Regions from separate parts of the Homo sapiens genome. Here region 2 is linked to region 1. The links come from fine-mapping of genetic effects on gene expression. Tissue or cell type: whole blood. Region 1 holds a variant in brackets; the other region holds the start of a gene. All regions are shown on one strand. Distances are between the middles of the regions.

Region 1 (8,106 bases):
CTCCAGATTATGCCTGGTGGGACATAGTACATGTGTTTAAATATAAAGTAATATGTAACATAAAAGCGGCACAAGTGAAGCTTTTTGAATGTTCAGAGGAATGAGAGATCACTTCCAACTGGGCAATCACAAAAGCTTCAGGAAAAAGTGATGTTGAGTTAGGCCCGGAAGGATGGACATGCTTCACACGTGCAGGTATTAGGAGAGATGATGGGGTGAAGCAAGAGAAGATTAGCTGCCGTGAGTTGAATACTGGGAATTTTAGGCCCTGTGGCATTTGGTGGGGATGATATTTTGAGCAGGGGGATTGTGCCACATCTCAAATTACACCAGGCAAGTAGTTGCTTACTATTCTGTTTATGGGATCAACGCTGCCAAGGGCATGCTACCTGCAAATGTGGATGGGAAGGATGAGAGAGAGAGAGAGAGAGAGAGATAGAGAGAGAGAGAGAGAGAAAGAATGCTAACTGAAGCTTCTACATAGCTGACTGCTCAGAAAACCCAACACATGGAGCTATGTTCTGAAGTAATTGCCTAAAACCTTTATCAACAAATAGTTTTTAGACTTTGGTATGGAGGAGAAAATTCTGGAAGAGAATCTACAACATTTCACAACACTGCAAACAGGGGGCATTTCAGGACATCCCTGAGGAACACAGCAGCATGCTCAACTTCCTCTTAGATGGCCTTGCATTTCTTACAGCCTCCTTGTGACCACAGGAGCCTGGTGATCCATGGAGCAGTAAGCCCAGCAAAGCCTAAGAGTGGGGCTCTGGAGGGACAGGTCTGTTGTTCTTTGTAGAGATTGATGGATTTGTTACAATTAGTAATAGGTGGCTTTCCTGAAATTCTGCAATTACCTCTTGAAATAGGGAAACCTCTGATCACATGGGTAGGATATTGCTAAAGAGGTGAAAACTTACTTGGGCCATTTAAACAGGTTCCTGCCAGTTTCCTATAAATGAAAGTTTAAATAATCCTCCTTTCTCAGTTAGGAAGAAAATCAATATCTGATTACAGCAGAATTCAATGCCATTCTGCCTGATTCTTCTATGCTTAGAAAACCCACAGAAGGCAGGAGCTCAGACGGATGAACCATGGTGTCCCGACTCAATGCAACTTCTCTTCTGTTTTCCATAGAGTGTTTCCAACAGTGTAAATCAACAATAATCATAGTTGCTATGTTAGTGTTGTACAATGCTGTACAGGCGATAACTTACTTTCACAAACATGTCTTATCTAATCTTCATAAAAATTCATTGAGGTGAATATTGCTCTCCTACTTTTACGGAGGAGAAAACTGAGGCACAGGTAACTAAAGCAAATTATCCTAGATCTTTGGATGAGCATGTATTAGTGATTAGTGTTTATGTCTGGTCTTAGGAGTAGAAATTCATTTGTGCTCTTGAGCAAGGTCCAAAGATGAGAGGCAGGATTGGGAACTGTAGGTGTAAGGGTGAGTTCAGAGCTGCGTTGGGCAAACATCTGATCATCTAGGGATAGGCTGTCCCCACACAGGGACAATCTTTTACCAGTCTTCTCTCTGCTAGGGAAGGTAATCAGTGGCAGAGACCCTCACATCTGGGAGTGACTAAAGTTATATGTTCAAATCTTTCATTTTTTTTTCAAATGAGGAAGCTGAGGTTGAGTGAAGTTAGGTGACTTGCAAAGACACACAACTAACTGGCGATGAAAATGGGATCATTACCCAGTTTTCTACTCTTACACTGGAATTTCTGCCACTGCACCTAGATGCTCTTCCTGCTTTACTCTCTCTTTTGATTAGATAGAAGTGTGTTTACAACATAAAGTGATTGGGCATTTGTTAGGTAAGTGGAATAAAAGTAACAGTTGCTACTATTCATTGAACACCTATGATGTGCTACAGTGTGCTAGATACTTATCATGCATAATTTTTCATCTTCGCAAGAACTCTGCAAAGTCTCTCTCTCTCAATGTGTATATATATACATTGTATAATATATACATTGTATACATATATACAATATATACAATGTATATATACATATACTGTATACATATATACACATTGTATACATATACACATATATATACATTGTATATATACACAATATATACATACATATACATATATATGTATATATACATATATACATTGTATACATATATACAATATATACAATGTATAATATATATAGTATATGTATATGTACAATGTGTGTATATATATATATAGAGAGAGAGAGAGAGACAGACAGAGTCTCACTGGAGTGCAGTGGCATGATCTTGGCTCACTGTAACCTCCATCTCCTGGGTTCAAGCTATTCTCCTGCCTCAGCCTCCCAAGTAGCTGAGATTACAGGCGCCCCCCACCATGCCCAGCTAATTTTTTTTTTTTGTACTTTTAGTAGAGATGGGGTTTCACCATGTTGGCCAGGCTGGTTTCGAATTCCTGACGTCAAGTGATCTGCCCGCCTTGGCTTCCCAAAGTGCTGGGATTACAGGCATGAGCCACCGCGCCTGGCCCTGCAAAGTCTGTATTTTTATCTCTGTGAGGATACTGGGACCGGTGATGAGGAGGGACTTGCCAAGACAATTTTGAGCCCGTGCTGTTTTTGTTGTGCAGCGTGGCCTCTGCAATAATTTATCTTTTGTCCTAGAAAACAGAAATATTTGAATTTTTTATGTGGTCAAATATCACTTGTTGGAAGTCATTAAAATTCAAATTGTCTGCATTTATTCCTAGAACTACACCTGATTAAAAAGGGAGATAAGGGAGATGAATCAGTTATCACCTTTAAACAGAGTCTTTAGAAGTCTTGATTAATAAGTACGTTTCAACATGAAGGAAAACCAACATTTTTTTTACAACTATAATTCAAGTTGTATGCTTAAGTAATTTTTTTTTTTAAAGAGAGATGTTTTGTTTTTAACCCTTATTCCTCCAACACGCCGGCGCAGAGTTCTAGAGGCACTTTTGTATTAATTAGTTCTTTCCTTCAAATTCAAATACCTTTACAATAGCTAAGGATATTTATCATTTAAATTCAGAGTTTGATACACTTGCTTCCTCTTAGCATCTGTGATATGCTGTCCAAATTGAAAAAAAAAAGCATTATTTTTTTCTTTGTTTCACTTGGAAGGCTTTAGGAAATGGGAAAGTCTGAGCACTGTGCCTCCCAGGAAGGATTTGGATCACCGTTGGGCAGTATGAATTTTTTTGGGTTTGGGAACCAGAAGGGAAAGGGTGCCAGGAGGTGGAAAAATGGTACTGACAGGGATGTGGCTGTTCTTGGCCAGTGAGCCCTGAAATCCTGATGTGACATAGGTGGCTAATTACTGCACTGTGTAGAGGTATCATGATGCGTCTTTCAGCATGATTCCAGACACAGCGCCTCTCTCATTTGACTCCACTCTTTTAACATGGATCCCCGGCTTCTACCTGCACAACCTCGCATGGTCACATCTCCCACAGAAATGAAGGAAGAGCCTTCTTCCCTGAAACAGCAGGGACTTTCGTGAAGTTCATCATGATGGTGCTTTTTAATTGGCTGTCTTGGCCTTTTATTTGTTTTCTGACCCTTGGACTTGCATTGCTCCCTGGTGCCTGTGGGTTTCCTGGTTTCTAACTGCTGGCTTGATTTTTAACCTACACACTTAACCTGGACTCCTGATATGCATGTGATTTCTGACTTCTCATTTGGCTCGGAGCCTTTTTGACTTTTCCCGTTCCCAGTCCTGCCTGTAATTCTTAGACTTGTTGTATTTTTCTACCTGGCTTCCCACCTTGGCTCTGGGACTCTTTGTCAACACCAGTCTTGATCCAATAGAGAGACTCGATCTCATTGGGCAACCAGGTAAACAAGAGGACTGGTGAAGGGGTTGAGAAAGTCACATCTTCATCTAGCATTTGGCACAATTCTCATGGCCTTTCTGATCATGGAGTTGACTTTATGTAATAAGAGTTCGAAGAAGTCTTGAACAGAAAAAAATTTTGTAAACAAGAGGCAGTAATTGTTATTCTTTCCAGTTGTTGAGTTAGCTACACCTCTGTAAATTGTAACATAGAGTTTCAAATTTATATTGAATTCCTGCGGTGTCCTGAAATTGGGGTCGGTCTACCTTTCCGAAGAAGACCAGACACATTTCTGTGACACAGGATCTTTTATATAGGATTCATGGGTAATAATTTCTGCTGCTCCTTCTTTATTCCAAAAGTGAACAAAAGTCAGTTTTTCACACAGGTAAAGTTACTAAAATTGTGGTAGGTAAAGTTACTAAAGCTGTAGTAACTTTACCTGTGTGAAATCCTAACTTACTTCAATAGGATATTATTAAAGGAAGGAGAATTTCCACATTCAAGATAACTAATCCAAATCAAGATCTTCATTTGGGAAAACCAGACTCAATAATATCAGATCCTGGCATAGCTCTGGCATGTTGTCTTGCAGGTATGTTGAGAGTATACAACTATGGGTAACCTCTTGGGCAAAGGAGCTCAAGATTAATTTCTTGTCATTTTCCACAAATGTATCAATGCATCTACAAAGTAAAATGGGATGGATTCTCAAATGTCAGTTCTTTCGAACCATTGATCTTAAGAATTCAGGTTGAGTTTATGTCTAGAATTTTAACTGATCATGACAGATAAATCTATGAGTCATTGTCATCTCTTAGAAGCTCATGATGATTTTAAGGGCGTGTTGTAACCACTTCTTTAACCAAAATCAGGCAATTTCAGGTGTGGCCCATAAGTAGTTAATTCCACAATGTTGCATTTTTTATGCTCCACTTGCAGCTGATTTGTGAGCTGTAGAGTTTGGCGGGGTTGGGAGTGTTGACCTCAGGAAGGATTTGCGACAGTGCTTGGCAATCACGTGACACACCAGCTATTCCTTCCCATCATTAACTTGGCATTGACTGGACAAGCAACAGGGCACCATTCCAGGTGTGTGTTGAAATTCTCTGGTGTCCTTTGAAATCCTAAGCAACAA[T/C]TTCCTCCCATTGTGCAACTCAAGAACTCTGATAAACAGTATGTTTGGCATTCTGTTCCTGGAAACGTCTCTTACAGAGGCCACCTATGGGTGTTCTAGAGTTGACTGAGGGACATCAGTGTTGGATGATGCCACAGAGGCTACCAGCTAAGTCTGTGTGGCAATAAAACACATCCTGTATAAGCAGAGACAGAGATGAGCAGGGGAAAATCCAAGCAAGATGTAGGAACAAATTAAAGGATGTATCACTCAGGCAACCAAGGTCATGGAGAGCAGAATAGAGCACCAAGAAAAGAGTTCCTGATAAACCAATGCACTAATTGGAAGTGTTTGTGGTGATGTGAAGAAGGCCTCTGGAGGCCTCCAGGGTGAGTTAAGGCAAGCAATCAACATGTCAAGGTAATTTGTTAGCAGTACTGGCTTTGGGTTAAGGTGTATAAACCTGCCTGTTGTGATGTATGAAGCCTGCTAACCGGAGGAAACTTGGCCATAGAAGGACAGCAGCAAAGTGGCGCCTGGTTGGAACTGACAAGAGGAACCACCTATACTTGTATCTGTACCTGTATCATCTGCCCCATGAAGGCAGGCCCTAATTACAAACCACTTATCTAGATGGAGGGGTGGGCATGGCCTCTCTATATGACCACAGGATATTTCCAAGTTTCCCTGATCTTACTGAGTAGTTATTATGAAAGGATGCTCTCAAAGAGCTGCAAGAGAAATAAAGGCTTTAATGAACGTGCATTTCTACAGGCCAAGCAGACCTAATTTGCCCTCTGAATTCACACCAGCTGTGCACACCCCTCACCGACTCATTCAGACCATACTGGTTGTGCACACTTTTCACGATCTCATTGACCCTGCATGACTCTGCTTTACACTTGAATGATCCCAGGAACCCAGACTGACTGTGCACAGCCTCACCTTCCCATTGAGCCCCCATAGGTTATACATCACACACCACATTGTCACTCTCACAGTTGGCTCTGTACATTTCTCTTCTGCTAAGCTCACACCCTTCACCATCTTAGTGATTTCATATCCACTTTGCACTGAGCTCAGCTGAGATCACATGGCCCACTGCATTGACTTCACACAGATTATACAATGCTATGACATCACCCACTCTTTGGCCACTCAATATCTGTTTTTCTATTCTTCCTAGAAATAAACCCTGGTTGTACTTTATGCACAGCTAAGAGACAACATTTCCTAGCCTCCCTTGCATTCTTATAACATTTTGTTATATGATTAAGTTCTAGCTAATGAGATTTAAACAGACGGGTTTGGGTGGGATTTCTGAGGGTGTTCCTTGAAGTGAGACAAAATTCTGGGGTCTAATCTTTTGACCTTAGTCTTTCCATTTTCCCTCCCCTACTGGCCCCTTTAGTTTTGAAAACAGTTAGGTTGGTGAGATTTCATCATTCATCTTGTGACTTTGAGAATGGAAGCCACTTAATAAGAATGGTTGGTCCATAAGTTGGAGGGGATCTGAGATCTTGATAACTTTATGGGGCAACAAAACCACTTCCTGGGCCTTCTATCTTGACTTCTTTTATGGAAGAAGATGAGCCCCCCTAGTTCTGCTTAAGCCACTGTATTTGGATCTCTGACACTACAGGTGAATGCAATTCTGTTTTCTTTTGTTTTTTGTTTTTTTTTTTTTTTTTTTGAGATGGAGTTTCACCCTTGTTGCCCAGGCTGGAGTACAATGGCATGATCTCGGCTCACTGCAACCTCCGCCTCCTGGGTTCAAGCGATTCTCCTGCCTCAGCCTCCTGAGTAGCTGGGATTACAGGCATGCGCCACCACACGCGACTAATTTTGTATTTTTAGTAGAGACAGGCTTTCTCCATGTTGGTCAGGCTGGTCTTGAACTCCTGACCTCAGGTGATCCACCTGCCTTGGCCTCCCAAAGTGCTGGGATTACAGGCGTGAGCCACCGCGCCTGGCCAGGTGAATGCAATTCTTACTGGCGCAACCCCTCACCATTCTACTGAGCTCACCCTGACTATGCGTGTGCTTATCATCCCCTCAGTCTATGTGTACTCTGTATATTGTCATTTGACTGGGATGGTGCATATGTGGAACAGCTGTCTTTTACTTTTTTAAATGCTAAGAATAGCCTCTGAACTTTTCTTTTGACTTAGTCATATAAAGTAAGATGGATCAGACTCTCTGAGGTACATAAATCACATTCTGTAAATGTTAATGGGGAGAGACTAACCCAGTACAATGCAAGTTGTACACAGGAATCAATACTCAGGTGATGCAGAGAGATGTTAGGATCAATGGTTCTTCCTTCCCTGAGTCAGCACCAAATCATGTCATGATGATTACTTGTGCATCATGGAGGCTGGGATAGGGTCTTCAATGGCAAACGTTGCCATTCCTTAGTGTAAATCTGAGTCTCACCCACTACACTTCCCAAAAGACTATATTTGAAAAAAATTTGCACATTAATATATTTTCCTTACCTTGCAATTTTGCCTCTAAAAAATCAAAAGAATAAAACTCAAGGTAGGGAGATAGCAACTGGAAAGCAGGAAGTAGAAAGATGGGCTCACACGAGGGCTGCCCAGTACAGGAATATGGTGTAAATGGTGCCCCCTGAGGGTGCAAAGTAGTGTTCCAGCTTATTCCCACCTCCACCTCATCTTCCATCCCAGCTGCTGTCAGAGTCTTTGGACATGGCCATGGTGACTCTGGGTTCAGCGCCTCCTTATCCTTTTAGCCCATTCCCTGGTGTTAGCATGGTGGAACAGAGGGAAGGGTCCTATCGAAGGACAAGTTTTCAGGTAAATGGTTACCACAGCAAGGACTATTCAGGATGCAAAAAACAAGCTTGAGAAGAGTGTGCTTGAAATCTTTAGATAGGCAGCTGATACCTGGGCATAAAAATCACCTTTTCTTCTTTCATCACAACTAAGAGGCATGACTTAAAACCTTTAAGAGTAGATTTAGTATAAAAATGAAATGATATTATGTGAAACAAGGCATTCTTAGGTTCCTGGACTCTGCACTTCTAGGCCTCTGCCCTTCTTAACTAGTTGAGGTACCAGAGGAACCATAGGATGTAACTCAATGACCCCCTTTATAAGACTCTTGATGACTGGCTGTGACTGGCAGG
Region 2 (8,106 bases), 29 kb before region 1:
CACGGGTGCAGTTCATTCTGGGAAATGGTTTATGGTTTAGATCAAATCTCTGCCCCAGGTAATGTGCTCACCATTGCCCCGGGAAGACTAGGTCTTGGGGATAATGCGGGGCAGGTGGGACCTCCTCAGCCAGAGGAAGAGCAGTGATGAGCCTCCTGTGGACAGGAGCCCCAGGTGTTATGAATGGGTCAGGATGTAAGGGTGATGACCAAGTATGGCTCCAAGGGAGGTGTGTGCCAGCCTCAGTGTATGCAGTGTATGCAGGAAATAGGCCTCAGTGGCCTATTTCCCCACTCCAGTCCTCTCTAGAGCAGGACACCTATGTTGGGATACATGGCTTATGAAGCAGTCATGGAATCCAGAACCCAGAGAGCAAAAGGGCCCCAGTCAGGGAAGGATGAGGAGGAATCTTCTCAGAGAAGGTGCTTGTTAAGGTTAAGGTTTAAGGCTGGTGCTCCTTCTGACTTGCTTCCAGTTGTTTCTGCAACTGGATAATTTTCTGAAAGGGGAACCCAAGAGGTGACTACTGCAGAGCCCCAATGATATGAAGGAATGTTTTCCAGATAGAGAAGCCTCCGTTCACCAGAGAACTCTGATCACGTACCAGAGAATAAACATGAATTAAACGTAAAAAAAAATGGGGGTGGGAGTAGATGTTACTGCAGCTGTGCCCATCAGCAGCTCATTGAGAATCAAAGTCTCCTGAATATGGAAAGTTAGCGGTGTCTATCACTGTCTTGGGAAACCAGCCAGGAAAAAGGCTGACGGACCAGGGATGGCTACCAGACATTGCTTGAAAAGGTAGGAGGTTTGAGTTGGTCCTTTCTGTCCCATTAAGATGTGTGCATCCACAGGAGACATTACCAAGTATGTTCCCACCTCCACTCCCAGAGGAAATGAAAGCCAATGACTGCATCCAGTGCTTGTTGGTCTCATGCAGTTCTCAGCTGAGGCTGATTTTGCTCCCCCAGGGAACATTTGGCAATGTCTAGAGACATTTTTGTTGTCACAACTGGGGGGAGGAGGGGTATCCTACTGGCATCTAGTGAATAGAGGCCGGGCAAACTGCTAAAGATCCAACAATGCACAGACAGCCCCAACAACAAAGAATCACCCACTTTCAAACGCCAATCGTTGAGATATCCTGGTTTGAGGCGAATGTTCTTTTTAGATGGTGGCACAGATCATCTATCTCAGCGTAGAAAGGGAAGGGACATGGCTCGTCTGTTACCCCTTATTGGTAGCCATAGACATAAGAGGGCTTGGTGAGAAGACAAAAACAACTGGGAGTGGAAACGAGCCCAAAGGAAGCCACAGGCTAACCCACCAGGTAGATGGAAGGATAAGGGCAGAGTTTTTCATTTCAAGCCAACTCTTATTATTTAAAAAGCAGTTTCCTTAAGCACTTAATTATACGTGTATTTCCCTAAGGAACTCTTGAGGCAGAGGAGACTTGCTTAAATTATGGGGATGGAGGCAGTACACAGGGCTTTAATGGGGTTAGCAAAATTTTGTTTCCCTTGCAGGAGCCTTGGGAGGAAGGGAAGGGCATATTCCTCTTCCACAGTGCAGAGATGTGGGGAGGATGGAGTGACACAGGAACAGAGGCAGAAAGGGCAAGGATTGGTTGTATGGCCTAGCAGGTGAGGATCAGAGTGGAGACACGAACTTGGGGAAGCTTCATGCCTCACACCTCTCTCTCTCTCTCTCCATCCTGGTAAGCCCTCCGACTGGAGGGGAGAGGTTCAGGAAGTGGCCCATTCACACCCTTCATGCCCTACTCCCTTCACATGAAAATACACACACACCCCTTTGGAAGATGTTCTGGTTTGCATCAGAAACAGAATGGGGCCATACTATTGGGGGAGGGGTGGATGGGGGAGAGCAGGGTAGACAGAACTTTTGGTGACAGGAGGGTAAGGGTTTCAGTGCATCCTCTATTTGCATTCTCATTCCTCTGTTGCAGCTGGAATGCCTGGAATGTGTGGGTTTCTTCTCTTTGGGAGACATCCTCACTTGAGTAGGCTAGGTGGAGACTAAGCTTGAAGGAACTGATCACTCAGATTTGACAAATAAAGTTAAACTGGGGAGAGGGCATCTTATGGCCTTAGATTGGCAAGACTTCAGCTGATATCTCTTGTTTAAGGTTGAGTTGGACAGGGATGAACTGGGTGGTTAGTGGTGGAAGGGGGAAAGCAGCAGAAAGGAGGACCAGTTGGCTAGGCCTGTCTCTGGTCTATGATACAAAAGATGAGATCTACAGGGGAACCCTTGACTCCCCACTCTTCTATGTCTCCACTGGAACTGGAATGCATGTCTACAATAGCATCCATTGTCTGTGGTGGACTCTATCTGTGCCCATCTTCTCCAGCAGGCTGAGCTCCTGAGAGCAGGAATTATGTCTCATTCCACTGTGCGGCCTCCAGATCTAACAGAACTCATACAGGTACGTACAGGAACTCACATATTTTATGGTGAATTTCTATCTTATTCAGCCTGCTATTGCAGAAAAGACCACAGGCAGACCTACAGTAAAGAGTCCATTGGGCGGATATATGCCATTCTTCCCATTTCTCATAAGTCAAAAGTGTAGTGGTGCTGGCAAAACAGGGCCCAACAAGGGGGCAGAATGGGGTCCAATAGGGGATAACTGGAGATAACATCTGAGAAACATGGCCAAGATTTAGAGCCCTGGAACTCTTCATTTAATTGTTAAATATCTGCTCTGCATAACTGCCTAGATTGGCTCTGTTCTCAGGTCCTTTGGCCTGAGGTTGTGGGGCAGCAGAATGAGCCAGAGAGCCCAGATGAGCTGAGCAGCACCTGAGGTTGGTAAGAGGTGACCAGCCCTGTGGAGGTGGAGATGGTGGTTATCTGTGAGTGTGACATCCAGGCTGTCTCTACCCCCAGATAAACAAGGGTGACACGTGTGCAGCAGGTGGGCCTACACGGAGGGGCCTCCTGGCCTGTGAGCATCAGAGACCTGGGAATGCCAGGAGGCCAGGCTATTCTGGACCTGAATCCTTTTCATTGACTAGCTCCCCCAGAAAACACATCAAATATTGTCAGGGAACAGATACATAGCATTTCAGCATCTTCAAGGGATTGAAGACGTGTGTTGCTGTTCTGGCCCATCCTTCCACTTTCTAGAAGTGTTGAAGATGGGCCTCTCTGAGCTTTGCCCACCTCATCCAAAGAACAGAGATGGCCCATCTGTCTTTCCTGTATCACAGGGCTACAGTGAGGCTGAAGTAAGTTAATGTGTGGGAATGCTTTATAAAGTACCATGCAACGTGCCCTGGTTCGTAAAACTCATTTATTCAACAAAGCAGTACAAGCCTCCCCTTCAATCAGGACCTGCCTGCAGGGGTGGGCTACTTCAGTGTCTTCAGCCAATGGGAGCTAGAGGGTTTAATACTTTAGTCCACTTCCCTTCATCTCTGGCCCCATCGACAACATGGGGAAGGGGAGTGAGGGCCTGGTAGAAGGGTACTAAGGCCCCTTATTTCGTTCGCTGGTAGAACTGGAAGACTGCTTTCTCCTGCTCATAGGTCTCGATGGAGCCGGGTCGTAGTCGTCGGATTTCAGCAATGGCATCTCCTGCAGCCAAGCCCCGCTCCTTCACCAGGTAACAGGCCAGCATGGTGCCAGTGCGGCCAAAGCCCAGAGCACAGTGCACTCCCACAGCCTACGAAGAGGGGGCTCGATGGGTGCCACTCAACTCCCCCACCCACAACTGTTTCCTGCCCCTCACTTGGTTCTCCCCACAGCTCCTTCTTCTGTGCCAGGTCCAGGGCTCTGCAGCAAAGTCAGGGAGGGCTGTCCCTGCACTAGGTGGCTAGGAGGCCTCTGCACTGGCTGGTTCAAGAGCTGTCCACCTCTACACAGCCCTCCACCTGTGGTGTTCAATACAGAAGACAGTAGCCACGGCTACTGTGGCTACTGTACTCGAAATGTGGCTAGTCCAAACTGAGATGTAGTGTGAAAAACGCAACAGGGTATGAAGAGGTAGTAGAAAAAAGAATGAAAATATCTCATTAAGATCACCAAAGTTAATTTTATCTGCTTCCCTGCTTTTTAAGAATGCCGTTGCTAGAAAAATTAACATTACATGGAGCCACTTAGGTTCCATTATATTTGGACAGCTTTACTCTAGAAAATGGTAAACAGCCTCCACCTGACTTCAACCCCCACCTCTCCCAGGTGTCTGTCCACACCCTTCTCCTTCACAACTCACAGTATTAGCTGGTTTTCACTGCCTCTCCTCAAGCCCAGTTCGCACTGCTTCGCCCTCTCTTTAGTTCCTTCCGTTTAGCGCTTCCCTCCCCCGCACTGGCTTCCCAGTCTCCCGGCCCTACTGTCTGCCTCCCCGAGCCCAGTTAAGTTATCCCAGGCCCGGTCTCCCCAGCTCCGCCCGTGTCCCCCGCTGACCTTCCAGGCCCCTCCCTCCCTGCGCTGACCCCGCCCGCTGACCTCTCCCCGTGCGTTGGCCTCGTCCACGATCTGCACGAAGCGGTCGATCTGGTCGGGGGCCGGCGGGCAGAAGTCGGGGATGCGCAGGCGGTGCAGGGTGAGGCCGGGGCAGCTGTCGCTGTGAGGGGGCCCGCGCTCCGTCAGGGACACCAGGTGCCGCACGCCCAGGTCCAACAGGAACTGGTAGTGGGCGGGGAGCCGCGGCAGCGCCAGTCCCGCCAGCCGGCCCGGAAGCACCCAGGAGAAGTTGGGGGGCTGCACGCCCATCGCTGGGAAAGGGCACAGGACAGCGGGTCATGGGGGCCGAGGCTGGCCAGCCCCGCTCCGCCCACGCGTCCCCTCGCCCGCTCCGAGCCAAGTAACTCACCACCTACCTGGCCTCGGCGCCTCCCGGGCCACGTGGTCTGCAGGGCGCCGCCCTCGGGTCGCTCTGCCCAGCCGCGGGGATTGGCCCAGAACCTGGGGCGGGGCTGGAACGCGGAACCCAGTCTCTGAGCGACCGAGGGAAGCGCCGCGATCCCGCCCCGTCCGAGCAGATCACGCGGTGATTGGCTGGATCATCATAATGGGCGGGGGGTTACTTCCACGGGGTTCAACCCACTCAGCTAAGAAGGAAGACCTGGAGCGAGTTAGGAATTGTTTGCTGCGGATGGAACAACCCGGGGTCGGGCTCTGCTGCACCCTGGCGGCATGTTGCAGTCATTGCGTCACTGGCGCCTGCCCCTGCCTCCTCGCGGGCCGGCCTAGTTCTACCTCCTTCACGCTGGATGCCCTGGGGTTTAAGAGATGACAAATCGGCTTTCTCCCAGGACGAGGAGTCTCCTCTCTAATGATTGACTGGTCGTTATCAGCGACTTTTTGAACTGTTCCAGTAAGAGGGAATTACTGCTGCAAGGAGGCTATTCTCATTTTTTCATTGCTGGAACTATTAAAAACTTACCCAGGGTAATAATTATAGTAATAATAATAACCAGCACCAACTTCTCCTGTCAATCCAGTTGCTCCTCAGGACTTATTGAGCATTTATTATGTGCTAGATAGTCTTCTAAGCACTTAGCACATACTGACTCATTTAATTGCCACAGTAATCTTATAAGATAGGTGATCTAGTGAATCCCATTTTATGGATGAAAAAACAGAGGCACTGGAGAGGTTAATAAACTTGACCAAAGGATGATGACTAATGCCTCCAAAATCTTTAATAATATCGCCATTTCCTAAAGTTAAATGGAACATTGTTTTCTCTTCACATAACCCCCTCATGTCCCCAAATATTATCTGGGTTAAACGCTTGTGGGTTTTCTTAATTTTTATTAGTATTTCATATTTCTTCATTTTTCAAGGTTTCCTAGTTCTCTGGGTCACTGTCCCCTGGGCAGGCTAGAGTTGATTAGTGTTGTTCTTACTAGGTGGGGGCCCCTAGATCTGAACACCGTTTCCACTGTCATCTGACCAGTCCATATCCTCATTTGAATAATGTGCTTCTAGCGATGCAGACTAACTGTAATTATGAAAATAGTTAACCCTTATTGAATTTGTTTATGTACCAGGCCCTGTGCCAAGCGCTTTCTGGAAGAACCACATGTGAAAGGTATTTTTGTATCTTTTTTTGTACATGAATCATTGGAAGCTTAAAGAAGTTGGTTAACTTGGCCAAGGACACAGTGATCCAAGCCCAGGGCACTTGGCCATGAGGATGTATTATATTTCCTTCCCTTTGCACCCACCTATGACACACGTCTGACCATTTAAGCCTTTGGCTTCAGCAAGATGGAAAGCAATTTGTCTTCTCCTAAAGATCAAAGCCTGCTCTGACCCTGTGGGAAATACACTTACCATTTACCCAGACAATTACTTTCCCCAGGTTCCAGGAGGTGCCAAATCTCCCCTTTTTCTCCTTCCAGACAATCACAGCCCTCATTAAGCCCTTCCTGTTTGCACTCTCATTTCCTACATAAATTCCTATCAAGGTTACCAGCCCTCCCCAGTTTATTCCTTTCTCTCTTTCCCAGCCATGGCCTCTCAGCCACCAGTCACCTCTTCCCCCAACCCCCTGACCTCCCACTTCTCTTCTCAATTCAACTGCTCTTCAGGATTTCTGGTTGCACTACCTCTGGAGACAAGACTCTAGCATTTGTTCTTGTAAGTTAATCTTTTCTTAGTCCCTTTGCCTTGTTCTCCTTTCTTTGCTTCCCCTACTCACCAGGGAAGTTTCCACTTCACTCCCTACCCTCCTATGTGCTCCTTCTTTGCCTCCTTGATATCCAGCTCGAAGCCCATATTCTCCAGAAAGAGAAAATTTTTTTGGGAGACCGAGATCTTCCTCTTCCCTGAGTCCCCTACCAATGATTCTCTCCCTCTTGTGGGTTTCTGCAGGGCTAGCAGTGCATCCATCAAACCATTAGGGCCTCCATGTGGAGAGGCCAGTTGGCTCCCTTTTTAGGAAGCTCTGCCCTTCCCTTCCAGCAGACCCAGAGTGGAAAGGGCCCAGGGTCCCTGCCTTAAGCTTTGTCAAGGGTGCCATATGTCAAGGGTGCCATATGATGTTTTGTCTTGGGCCCAAGGGGCCTCAAACTGTAAGGAAAAACCCTCTCTGATGGTTTCCTGGCTCAGACTTCTGCAATTAACAGGACTTCTGCAACTAACCACCTTCTTGTCTGCCCACATACATGATACTGACCTTCTTTTATTCTCTCCTCTGTACAGAGTTACCTGACCCTCAGGAAGATTTAGGCTTTTTTTTTTTCTCCCATCTCACCTTGTATAAATATGTCTTCTCAGTATAGTAATGTCATTGGATTGAGGATACTTGTTTGCAGAGGAGGCAAGAATGCGTTGTTCCGTTTTTGAATTCCACACATCTAATATGGAGCCTGAGCCACAGGGCTCAAAATGTTAAGTAAACAAATGAATGGGAAATTAATAAGAAGAATGCATTGGCAAGACCGTGAAGGTACATTTCTAGGAGTGAATGTGAGTCTGTCGGACCATGTGGCAATGTGTATTTGTAATTCTTTTTAAATGCACAAGTTTGAGGACTGTGTTGAGTATTGGGTAGTATCTCTTTGAAGTGTATTTTTTACTTGACTGTGCTTTTAAATAAAGAATGGCTGTGTCAGTATGATCTTGGCTATGTCTAATTACTATTTTTGTGAAATGGGACAAATAAAGCTTGTTCTTTATAGAGCACTGCTCTTGTAGTGTGCATGTGTGTGATGGCTTGTGTATTTGAGTGCTTTGGAGGGGCCGTGTTCCTGGAGAACAATCTATTGACACTGATGGTGGGCTGAGTAGTAAGCTTAAGAAATTTCCCTGACTTCAAGGAATTTACAACATCCTTGCGGGGGATTTAGACTCTGATGTAATTATTCTCAGGACATATAATAAAGTACTAAATTGCTCATCAAAGACAATCAGATAATACATATTAAAAAGCTAATTGTGCAGTAAAAACAAGTGCAAAAGAAGTCAGTGGGGGAAAGATAAGCTTGAATTGGAACTACCAGAAATGTCTTATGAAGAGAGGGATTTTTCTTTCCATTTTGTCTACTGTCCAATGAAAAGCTCAGCAGACCCAGCAATCCCATTACTGGGTATATACCCAAAGGAATACAAGTCATTCTTTTATAAAGA

The links. PIP is the estimated chance that this variant, and not a neighbour inherited with it, causes the effect.
Region 2: it holds the start of DUSP23, and the variant in region 1 is fine-mapped to the expression of DUSP23 in whole blood (TOPMed, PIP above 0.99).

What each region holds. Positions count from the first base shown.
Region 1 is chr1:159,749,175-159,757,280 of GRCh38, reverse strand. No RefSeq gene overlaps it. Among named protein-coding and RNA genes, the nearest start is that of DUSP23, 28 kb to the left of the region's middle. The variant T/C (reference allele first, on the strand shown) is at 4,977.
Region 2 is chr1:159,777,735-159,785,840 of GRCh38, reverse strand. DUSP23 (dual specificity phosphatase 23) reads right to left here and starts at 4,879. Exons shown (of 2, transcript NM_001319658.2): 1 at 4,474-4,879; 2 at 3,298-3,688. The coding sequence starts at 4,740. The coding sequence ends at 3,503. It overlaps LOC101928264 (a long non-coding RNA gene), which reads left to right and starts at 6,460. Exons shown (of 3, transcript XR_922193.3): 1 at 6,460-6,615; 2 at 7,180-7,426. RefSeq lists an enhancer at 3,987-4,563 and a silencer at 4,555-4,944.